2 separate regions of the Homo sapiens genome follow, and region 2 is linked to region 1. Evidence: fine-mapped expression QTL. A gene starts in region 1. The other region holds a variant in brackets. All regions are shown on one strand. Distances are between the middles of the regions.

What was found. PIP is the estimated chance that this variant, and not a neighbour inherited with it, causes the effect.
Region 2: its variant is the best candidate, but not a certain one, in a credible set for the expression of NT5E in whole blood (TOPMed, PIP 0.55).

What each region holds. Positions count from the first base shown.
Region 1 is chr6:85,447,736-85,453,117 of GRCh38, forward strand. NT5E (5'-nucleotidase ecto) reads left to right here and starts at 2,348. Exons shown (of 9, transcript NM_002526.4): 1 at 2,348-2,743. The coding sequence starts at 2,405. RefSeq lists a silencer at 2,141-2,410.
Region 2 is chr6:85,390,278-85,395,659 of GRCh38, forward strand. All of the region lies in intron 3 of LINC02535 (long intergenic non-protein coding RNA 2535), which reads right to left. Among named protein-coding and RNA genes, the nearest start is that of LINC02535, 12 kb to the right of the region's middle. The variant T/C (reference allele first, on the strand shown) is at 2,097.

The DNA.
Region 1 (5,382 bases):
CATTATCAGCTCCAGGACAGCCGAAATCCTTCTTGGTTCTTTCATACTATCGCCCACTGTGTCTAAAGTAGATTTTAAGTTAGTGTTACTTGAATTGCAAGTACTACTACCACTGAAGCAGCAACTCTGTTTCCATTGCTTGGGGAGAAGACCAAAAACACACATTAAACACCTGGAGAAAAAAAGTAAAACCACATTAAAGTGAGATTGTAGGAACTGACCAGAAATTTAGAAAAGAGAAAAACTCACTGCTGTGTGAAGAAGTCAAAGGAACTTCATGTTGACTTGAACAAGAAATTAAAGGAACCCCGGGCCTTGGCCTAAGGACAGACTGGAAATGGTGGTTTGGAGAGAAGAAATGAGGACAAAGGGAATGTGTGAGGAACAGTGGAAGGTAAAGTTGGCTGGATAAAATGAGACTTCAAAATGCCAGTTTGCGAAGCTTGAACTTGGTGCAATAAACAATCAAAGGCCATTTTAGATGTATATGAAAACAAATGGCATGGAAATGATATTGAAGCAGAAATCTGGTAGCATCCCCAGAACAGGAATTTCAGAAACTATTGCAGTGGCTTAGGTTTAAAAGACAAGAAACAACAAATGATCAGTTCCCCAGTGATCAGTGATAGGTCATGTTGATACCGTGTACCCACAGATACCAGGCAATGAGAAAGGCACATAATCTCTGTAGCATTCTTCCTAAACATCCACAGCTTCAGTCCAATCATGAGAAAACATCAGACAAACCCAAACTGAGGGATAGTATACAGAAACCAGTACTGTTCAAAAGTGTCAAGGTTTTTGAAGACAACTGACTGAGAAACTGTCACAGATTAGAGGAGGCTAAGAACACAGGAAAACTAACTGCAATATGGTATCCTGAATTGGGTCCTGGAATAGAAAACGGACATTAGTGGAACAGTTGGTGAAATTAAAATAAAATCAGTAACACAGTTAATAGTTTCGTATCACTGTTAAGTTTTTAGTTTCATTGGTTATATAAGCTGTTAACATAAGGCAATATGGGTGATGGGTATGTGGGAACTCCCTTTATTACCTTTGCAACTTTTCTGTAAGTCTAAAATCATTCTTTTTTTAAGTTAAAACAGCAAAACTACCAGTTCTTTTACCTGCTTCTAGCAGGTGCTCAAAGAGGGACAGAGCAAAACCTTGCAAAGCATGACATTAGAGGGTGTCCCAGAAGCAAGGGTCTTCTGTAGCCCCAGGCACTGCTGCTCCCAAACTGCATGGCCTTTCTTGGCAAATGATTTACAATCTCCGAACCTCAGGTCAATGTCTTAAAAACGGGCACAGAATGTCTTTTCAACAAATGGTACTAAGAAAACTGGATATCCACATGAAAAAGAGTAAATGTGGACTCATACCACATATGAAAATTAACTCAAAATGGATTAAAGGTCTAAGAGTTTAAATTATAAAACTCTTAGGAGAAAACATAGAGGAAAATCTTCCTAACATTGTATTTGGCTATGACTTCACTGCGACACCGAAAGCACACGCGACAAAATAAAAATAAAATAAAATAAAATAAGACCAGAAAAGCAAAGAAGGGCAGCATCCCTTCCCGTCCTGATAGCTGCCGGATTTTACCCCAATCGTGTTTCTGCTTCCAGGAGCTGTCCGCGCGTCGCCTCTGTTTTATCACTAAGGTTTTAATTGTGAATAAACAAGGAACTGGATTCGAATGATTTCTTAGTTTCTGAGATTTTTTTGTCTAAGCATCGTAGACTTCGTGCGTTCTCAACCCAACAGGAAGCGTCACATCTCAGTGAGCTTCGGCTCTCACAGCCCGAAACTGCAAGGAGCTCCTCTGCCCGGCCTCTCTTTACTCCTCCTCTCTGCCCCTCAGCTCGCTCATCTTTCTTCCCGCCCCCTCTCTTTTCCTTCTTTGGTTCTTTGAAGTGATGAGCTAGCGCAACCACAAACCATACATTCCTTTTGTAGAAAAACCCGTGCCTCGAATGAGGCGAGACTCAGAGAGGACCCAGGCGCGGGGCGGACCCCTCCAATTCCTTCCTCGCGCCCCCGAAAGAGCGGCGCACCAGCAGCCGAACTGCCGGCGCCCAGGCTCCCTGGTCCGGCCGGGATGCGGCCGGTACCCGCTCCCCGCCGGGAACAACCTCTCCACTCTTCCTGCAGGGAGCTGGTGCCAGCCGACAGCCGCGCCAGGGCCGCTCCGGGTACCAGGGTCGGATCGGGTGACGTCGCGAACTTGCGCCTGGCCGCCAAGCCGGCCTCCAGGCTGAAGAAGGACCCGCCCCGGCCTTGACCCGGGCCCCGCCCCTCCAGCCGGGGCACCGAGCCCCGGCCCTAGCTGCTCGCCCCTACTCGCCGGCACTCGCCCGGCTCGCCCGCTTTCGCACCCAGTTCACGCGCCACAGCTATGTGTCCCCGAGCCGCGCGGGCGCCCGCGACGCTACTCCTCGCCCTGGGCGCGGTGCTGTGGCCTGCGGCTGGCGCCTGGGAGCTTACGATTTTGCACACCAACGACGTGCACAGCCGGCTGGAGCAGACCAGCGAGGACTCCAGCAAGTGCGTCAACGCCAGCCGCTGCATGGGTGGCGTGGCTCGGCTCTTCACCAAGGTTCAGCAGATCCGCCGCGCCGAACCCAACGTGCTGCTGCTGGACGCCGGCGACCAGTACCAGGGCACTATCTGGTTCACCGTGTACAAGGGCGCCGAGGTGGCGCACTTCATGAACGCCCTGCGCTACGATGCCATGGTAAGACCCGAGCCCGCGCCCGGGATAGTAGTCCCGGACTGAGAGAGGAGCCGGGCTGGAAAAGCAGCGGATGGCAGAGTGTGGCAAGCCTAGGTCCAGGGCGCGGAGAGATGTGGGGATAAAGTGAGACTCCGGCCAGTGTGCCAGCTGGATGCATAGAAGTCCCTTGGACGATTCGTCTTAAACGGACGTTATTGCGCCCCCACTATGAGATGGGAGTATTTAGAGGAGCAGGACCCAGTCCTGCCTGCGAGGGGCTTAAGGTGGGGTGCGTAGAAGCACTGACAGTTATCCAGAGCTAGGGACTGAATCGGATCCCTCACGCAGCTCTCATTTACTGCTAGATCTTTCAAAGAATGCTTTATCTCAATCTAGATCTTTCGAAAAATGCTTTATCTCAATCTTATTGAAAGGGAAACCGCGTCGAAGAAGCTGAATAAATTAACAGGCACCATCCCCGCAAAAAGGGAGACGTGATAAGAATGGACACCAGATCTCTTTGACCCCGGAGCTTGAGAGTAATTAAGCTCACAGCTTTGGGGTAGATTCTCTGTTCAATTACCTTCTATGTGACCTTGAGCAAGTTATTTACTCTTTCTTGCCTCAGTTCTATCCTGTATAAAAATAAGGATTATAATTGTACATAGTGCACATAGTGTGGTCTCTATATTATTACCAGACACATAGTGTGGTGTCTATATATGTTGTTATTACCAGACACTATAATATAGGGTTAAGAAAAGGAAAGAAAGAAAGAAAGAGAAAGAAAGAAAGAAACTTCAGAGAGAGCCAAAATGTGGAAAGACTTGGGTTTCAAAGGATTTCAATAAAGTAGGTTTGGCGGCAGAGATTTAGGAAGAGTCCAACTTAAGAGATAATGGGCTCTTAAAACATGTGCAAAAGTTTAGTTCAAAGTCCCAAATGTTAGGTTAAAGGTAATGCCTTTTCTATTGCACTAAATTCTAGAAAGGGAGCAGAGGTGGTTGCACAGTAATAAATAAGTACAACCAAGATGTATATATGGTGGTTAAAAAAAAAATAAAACCACCACCCAAATTTAACCCTGTGTAAAAGCCTTGAGTAAAGGGATTCAGCAAGACTGTGGAGAAACTTGGGAGAAGAAAAAAGAGCTTTGGAAGAGGAAGAACTGAGAAATCTCCAGAGAAACGTCCAGAGAAATCTGTGAAGTCCACAAGTGTGGAAGGGAAAGGGAAGTGTGATTAGGCTGGGATACAGAAGGCTAACAGTACACTTTATATGAGAAGAGCTTAGAGGTCAGGAGAGCACAATGCTGAGGGGTTTGTTTGGTTTTATTTTCCCCTCTGGAAACTTGGAGAAAGGAGGACAGGAAAAGATGATAAGAGGGCACCATTGTTTGGTTTTAAAGGTCCCTCCCCAACCCCCCACAACAAGAAAGCTCATTTTAATGAGATGAGAGAAGGGGAGAAAGCTCCCTCCGTTCTGATGCTTTTGAGCTTATCAGGGACACCCTGCAGCAGAAATTCCAGCTGATCCTTCAGCCTTCAGAGTTGATGAGGTGGGGCTCACACACATCTGGATTTGAAGAAGAATCGTGGGTTTCAAGAACTCTGTGGTCTCTTAAGCATTGGTATTCCACAGCTACACTTCCCTGATACTTTGCACTCAGTAATGACAAAATAAATATTTGTAGAATTGAGTTGTTGCTACCCTGTGTCTCCACTTCCTCCCAGAAGGGTAGAATAAACTTACATGTGTTTGTTTTATTTTGCATATAAACCACGACTTTGTAAACTTTACTTTTTGTGACACTCTTTTCTCCACAATTGTGTGAACCCTTTTTAGTGGAAAAATAAGAATGAAGAATTCCTAGTTTTCCCTAATAATATTTCCCTCTTGTAAGTCTAGTTGAGCTCCTGGTGTTAATCATGGTATCAAATGTTTATGACAGGACATCTAGGTGAGGCCTGAGTAAACTGCTGTAAGTTACAGCCTATCTCTTCTGTGTTTGTTCAGAATCCTTTTTGTTGGATGAAATTACTTTCTTTCAAATTTTGCTCAAGAAAATTGAATTGGGTTCTGAGGAAAAATAGGCTACTTACGTAATGTTGGCAGGGGGTAAAGATTGGGAGCGGATCACATGGCAAGGTTAGATGGCTGTGTCCTCAGGACTTACTCTGTGCAGTTTGGGGGTGTGTCAAACATGATTTGACGTGCATAAAATCCCAGTTCTGTAGTGCTAAAGCATGTGCTAAAGCTCTGCTGTACTCCAGTATTGCACAGATGTTTCACTGTCAATTGTTTATATTATACTAACCCTCAGAGAATTTATTGCTGTTGTGGTATAAACGTTCCTCCACTGTAACCACTCACCGCATATTGATTCCTAGGACACTGGGGATTCAAATCAGGGTGGAAAACAGTTGTGGAGGGGCATCTCCAGTTTCCTGGAGACTGGACCTAGTTCAAAGGAGCCACATAAAAGGACTGAAGCATATGGAGGACAAAGAGGAATTTCCTAGAATCCAGCTAAAACACAGGAGTCCCCTCGAGCAGGAACTTCCAAGGAGGTGTACACTTTCTAGACCTACTGGAGTAATCCTGATTGCTGTAGAGGACCCAGGGCAATCCTGGAGACCCCCTGGAACCACTACTAGGCA
Region 2 (5,382 bases), 57 kb before region 1:
CTATTTTCCAGGCTCTTCGTAACCCTGGGCATATCTCCATATACACCCATCACACCTGCTATTACTATTGGTTGATGTGTCCATCTCTCCCAGGACTTTGAGCCCCTGCGACTAAGAATAGATATAGCTTTGTATTTATCTCTATAACTCTAGATAAATTCTCCATAAATGTTTGATAAATGATTTAAGAAATGACTGGAAGAAAAAGTAAATGAATAACAAGCCAAAGAGCAGTAGACAGCTTATGCTAACACTTTGAAGCTTACAGTGCAAACTGAACTCTGCCTCTCCTCTCAATGACTGAATCCATTCCACTTTGTTTCTGCCTCCCTCACTTTCTTATTCTAACAGATCTGAAGCAAATTTTAAAATCTATAATTAACTTTTTTTATATTACCCTCAAGGGATCATAGATCAATGACTTTCTAGAAAAAGAAAGATCCCCATTCTTACCTTTGCATAATCTCTTTTTAAAAAAAAACAAGAGATTACATTTCATGTTCAAATGCCTAAATTATCTCTTCTTAGGACACACAGCAATATTATCTCCCATTTTGACAATTGCCATTGGGTTTACTTCAATTGAAATGAAACATACTTTCATTGTAATTCTGCAAGCACACTGATGAAGTTGTTTACAATCAAGTATTAAAACTTATCTAGGGGCAGTTATGCTTAGCTAAACCTTTGGAATGTGCTAAGTCATGGTTAAGTTGTGCTAAGGGAAAGAATGCTGGGGAACTTATGCCAGTCTCTCAAGATGGCAGCCACAAAGCAGGCATTAGAGCCATAGAACTGAGGTAACTGACCCCGAGTTCAGTTATCACTAGTAAATCAGTCATAACAGTCAAAACAACCAAAAAATATGATAAATTTCCATGGAGCAAAGGGGAACAACAATCCCACTACAAATTTCCAACAATCAGATTTTCTTTCAAATAATAATATGGTAGCATGAAGAGCTAATGCTTTTGACAATCTAACAAAGAAAGTCCCTGAACTCCTTGGGAGAGACCTTATTGCACTCTTCTTTATGTCATCATCATCAAACATGACAGCTGCACTCATACAACATTCAATGCCTGATAAATATTTGTATTTCAGATAGGAGCATGTGTGTCAGAAATTATTTGGAACCTAAGTCCAATAGACACAGCTAATTAAATTATAAATGTGGAGCAAAGTGTGTTGGATGCTTTAAGAGCTTATATATACATGCAGAAATGAAAAGCAATGAAGAAGACAGAAAACCACATGGAACCAAATAAAAGGAAACAGTAAAGTTTCAAAGTGGTGCTTACTAGGTGTAATCTTTCTGAGGTTCCTCTGAGCAACTACCATTGTTTCATTCAATTTGATCTTCCCTAGTATGGTAATAAATAATGCCAGGAGTTCCTTATAAGGGTCGTTCTCAAACCTCACTAATTATCTCAATTATCTAAGGTTTTATATTTTGAGTCATGGTCTTACTCTGTTGCCCAGGTTGGAGTATAGTGGTGTGATCATAGCTCACTGCAGCCTCCAACCCCTGGGATCAAGTGACCCTCCCATCTCAGTCTCCCAAATCACTGGGACTATTGGTGTGAACTACCATACCCAGGTCTTAAAATATTTTTTAAACGTAAAGATTTCCAGCCCCATTTCAGACCCACTAAATGAGAGTCTACTAAGGAGGGGCCAGGAATCTGTATTTTTAAATATCTCCAGGTAATTCTAGTGATCAGCCACTTAGCAAATACCAGTGATTTTTAAAAAGAAAAAAAAAATTGTAAGATATACTGATAGGGGCTGAATTGTGTTGCCCTAAAATTCATATGTTGAAATTCTAACCTCCAATACCGCAGAATGTGACTGTGTTTGGAGACAGGGTTCTAAAGAGCTAATTAAGTTAAAATGAGTCGATTAAAGTGGGCCCTAATCCAATATGACTGGTGACCTTATAAAAAGAGAAAATTAGGACACAGAGCGATACAGTGGGAAGGTTGTATGAAAACAGGGAGAAGGTGGCCATCTGCAAGCCAAGAAGAAAAGCCTCAGAGGAAACCAACCCTGCTGGACTCTTGATAATGGGCTTCCAACCTCCAGAACTCAGAAAG[T/C]AAAATTCTGTTGTTTAAGCCATTCAGTCTGCAGTACTTTGTTATGGCAGTCCTGGCAGACTAATACATGTACCTCCATGGTTAATGATATGGTTTTGTTCTGTGTCCCTACCCAAATCTCACCATGAATTGTAATCCCCATAATCCCCACATGTCAATGGCGGGACCACGTGGAGGTGATTGGATCATAGGGGAGGTTTCCCCCATGCTGTTCTCCTGATAGTGAGTGAATTATCATGAGATCTGATGGTTTTATAAGCATCTGGCATTTTCCCTGCTTGCACTCACTCCATCCTGATGCCCTGTGAAGAAGGTGCCTGTTTCTCCTTTGCCTTCCGCCATGATCGTAAGTTTCCTGGGGCCTATCCAGCAATGCAGAACTGTGAGTCAATCAAACCTCTTTCCTTTACAGATTACCCAGTCTATGGTATTTCTTCATAGCAATGTGAGAATAGACTAATACAGTTAACTGGCACATCTGAAAAGCAAGAAAACATTGTGAAGGATGACCTGTGTGATAAAGAGACATTATCTTATATCCCAAAGGGAAAATAGTCCCTATTAAAATGGTTGATTAATTGTTACATTTTACTTCTAACTTCAATGGGGAGAGAAGTTGCTGAAGGAGAAGGGAAAGAGAGAAAAGAGTCTGAAAGTGAAAGGGAGTAACAAGTTGCTGGTAAAATGAGAGAAAGGAGCAACATTCAGGAAAATGAAAACCATATCCCTTAAGGAATGTACTATAATACAACGACATTCTGAGGAATCAGCATCCCCAGGAAAAACAATGAAAAGTAATGCCCAGGAGCACCTTTAGAAGTCATGGGGAATTTTATCTGAGTCTTTCCTTGCCAGAGGGAAAAGTTTTCTTTCTTTCACTTATTTCATCAACAACCATTTATAGGCTGCCTCCTACATCTTAGACACTAGGCTACAGCCTGGCTGTGCAAAGATGATCAACACAGGAGCTGTGCTATCTAAGAATGTCAGTCTAGAAAAAGCAGTTCTCTTTAAAAGCCTCCCTAAAGGTCCAATCCCAAGACACACTTAAACCTCCTTTAGAGATCTTAGGTTCTTCAATTCTTTATCTCTTTGTACAGCCCCCAGGTTCCCAGGCAGGAAATCCACAGCCAATTCCTGTTCCTAAGCACCCAGGAGGCAGGTGTGTTTCCAATTACTATGCTCTCTTCGGGCTATAATTAGGAAAAGTACCTCTCTGACATTTTGACTCTAGCACAGGGCCAGGCACATAGTAAGTACTCAATAAATATTTTTGGAATTAATTAATGCCTTAATCAAATCTATCAATCCTAGAAGCCCTCCTGGTGAGTCTGGTACCTTCCCCTCCCCTGCTCCCTAGACCTCTCCCAGAAGCAGCTTTGCCTTTTTGGAATCTCCCAGAAGAAGCTTCCTAAGGTAGTGTTGAGGAAATATAATTAAAAGCAAAACCCCCTCCCAGCCCAGAAAACCTCTCCACAAACATAATCAAGAAAGAAAACAATTTTACTATTGAATAAACATTAAACCAGAACGTAACGCGTATCACGAACAATTCACTGGAGAGATTGCAATGGTGAAAAGAAATCTTTCATAGAGCAAAGTGGATATAATCCATTACACTCATGTTTTCAAGAAAAAATCCCTAAGTTTATTGTATCATTATAACTAGAGGTAGGGGTTTGCCATTTCAAGTCGGGGAGAGTTGAAATTAGGCCCATTTTCTCCCAGGAAACTGAGAGATGAGGCCTTATCTTTTTTGACGATTACATTTCGAGAAGATGAGGAACATGAAGAAGCGTGTCAACCAATGTTGCCACAAGTCCATGAGGAAATATTCTTGAGTTGTGTCAACCAAAGAATTATGAGGTTTCCACATTTGGACAGGAGAACTTTATTTCTTATAAAAGGTTGCAGCCTCCAGGGTAACAATCCACAGCCTGGGAAGCATAACCTCCAGTAGAAGCAGAGAGGAAATGGTGACACAGGAATTTAGGCCAAATGGGTTGGCTAAGCATACATATTCATCAGATTACAGGAGGAGCAATAAATATTCATGAAAGAGGGCATGCATGTATGCATGCATAGTAAACTAACATGCATGTCACATACATCCGAGGTTCACTTTTTGGTGGATACTTAACATTTAAATGCATTAAAATTAGGCTATACACATTATAAGGTGAAATGGAGGACACAGAGGCATCCAGTACATAGACTCCACAAACTGGCCAAAACCAGTTCATGGTTAGTGGTCTCTTATCAGGAAAACATGCTGGTTGATTGTTGGGTCAAAACTGCAAAAATGGAGGGGAGTCCACTGAGTCTTTTGAAATGGCTGGTTTCTGTTAAATCCTTAGGAAAGAAGGTTTAATGGCAGGTACTGAGGGAGAAAGTATAATGAAGCATATCCAACCTCCCCCATAATGGGCCAAAACTCAGTTTTTAAGGCTTCTCTGGGGTCTCCTTGGCTAAGAGGGGGTGGATTCAGTCAGTTGGAGGGTTTAGGATTTTATTTGTATTTCTCAGGTGTAAAACTCACAAGATGTTTATTTAGCACTTGACCTTAATAGTGGCAAGGCAGTCCAGTCCTCCTGGAACACCATACTCATCAGCATCTCTTTGAGACTGGCCTACCCTCTGAACAGGAATGCACAGAAGCTGCCCGCTGGGACTGCAGGTGCTCTGTTAGCCAGGTCTCCTGGCCATGGCACTGTGCTTTAAGGCCAATTCTTGGGACAGAAAGGTGAAACTTCTTTCTGTAAACCCATTTGGTAAACCCTTTGACCTTGAACATTAAGCATCAAAACACTCAAAGCACAGACTTTGAAATTACACAGACCTCTGCTAAATTCCAGACTACTTCATCTGTGTTGTCTGATCTTGAGCTAATTGGTTGGTTAATTTTTCCAAGACTCAATGTCCTTGTCTATAATAGGGAGATAATATCTTCCACAGAGAGCACAGCTGAAGAGTTGTTAAGTGCTCTTATTACTACAATTGAAGCAAGAAAGTAAAGAAGTTTGGTGCATACACTCTGAACCCAAATGCCTGGCTTTCATCCCAGATCCACTTTTGGCAAAATCACTTTTCCTGTTCCTTAGCTTCCTCTAAGTAAAGTTGTTTAGAAGAATTGCTAGCCCACATAAGAATTTAATAAGTGTTGGCTATTATTTTATTTTTTTCACCTTCATCTCCATTTTGCCAATGGAGATTGGAGAATTGTTTCAAGTCTCTTTCATTTTTTAAACTAAGTAGAATCATTTGAATTGCAAGGTCTGTAGACAAA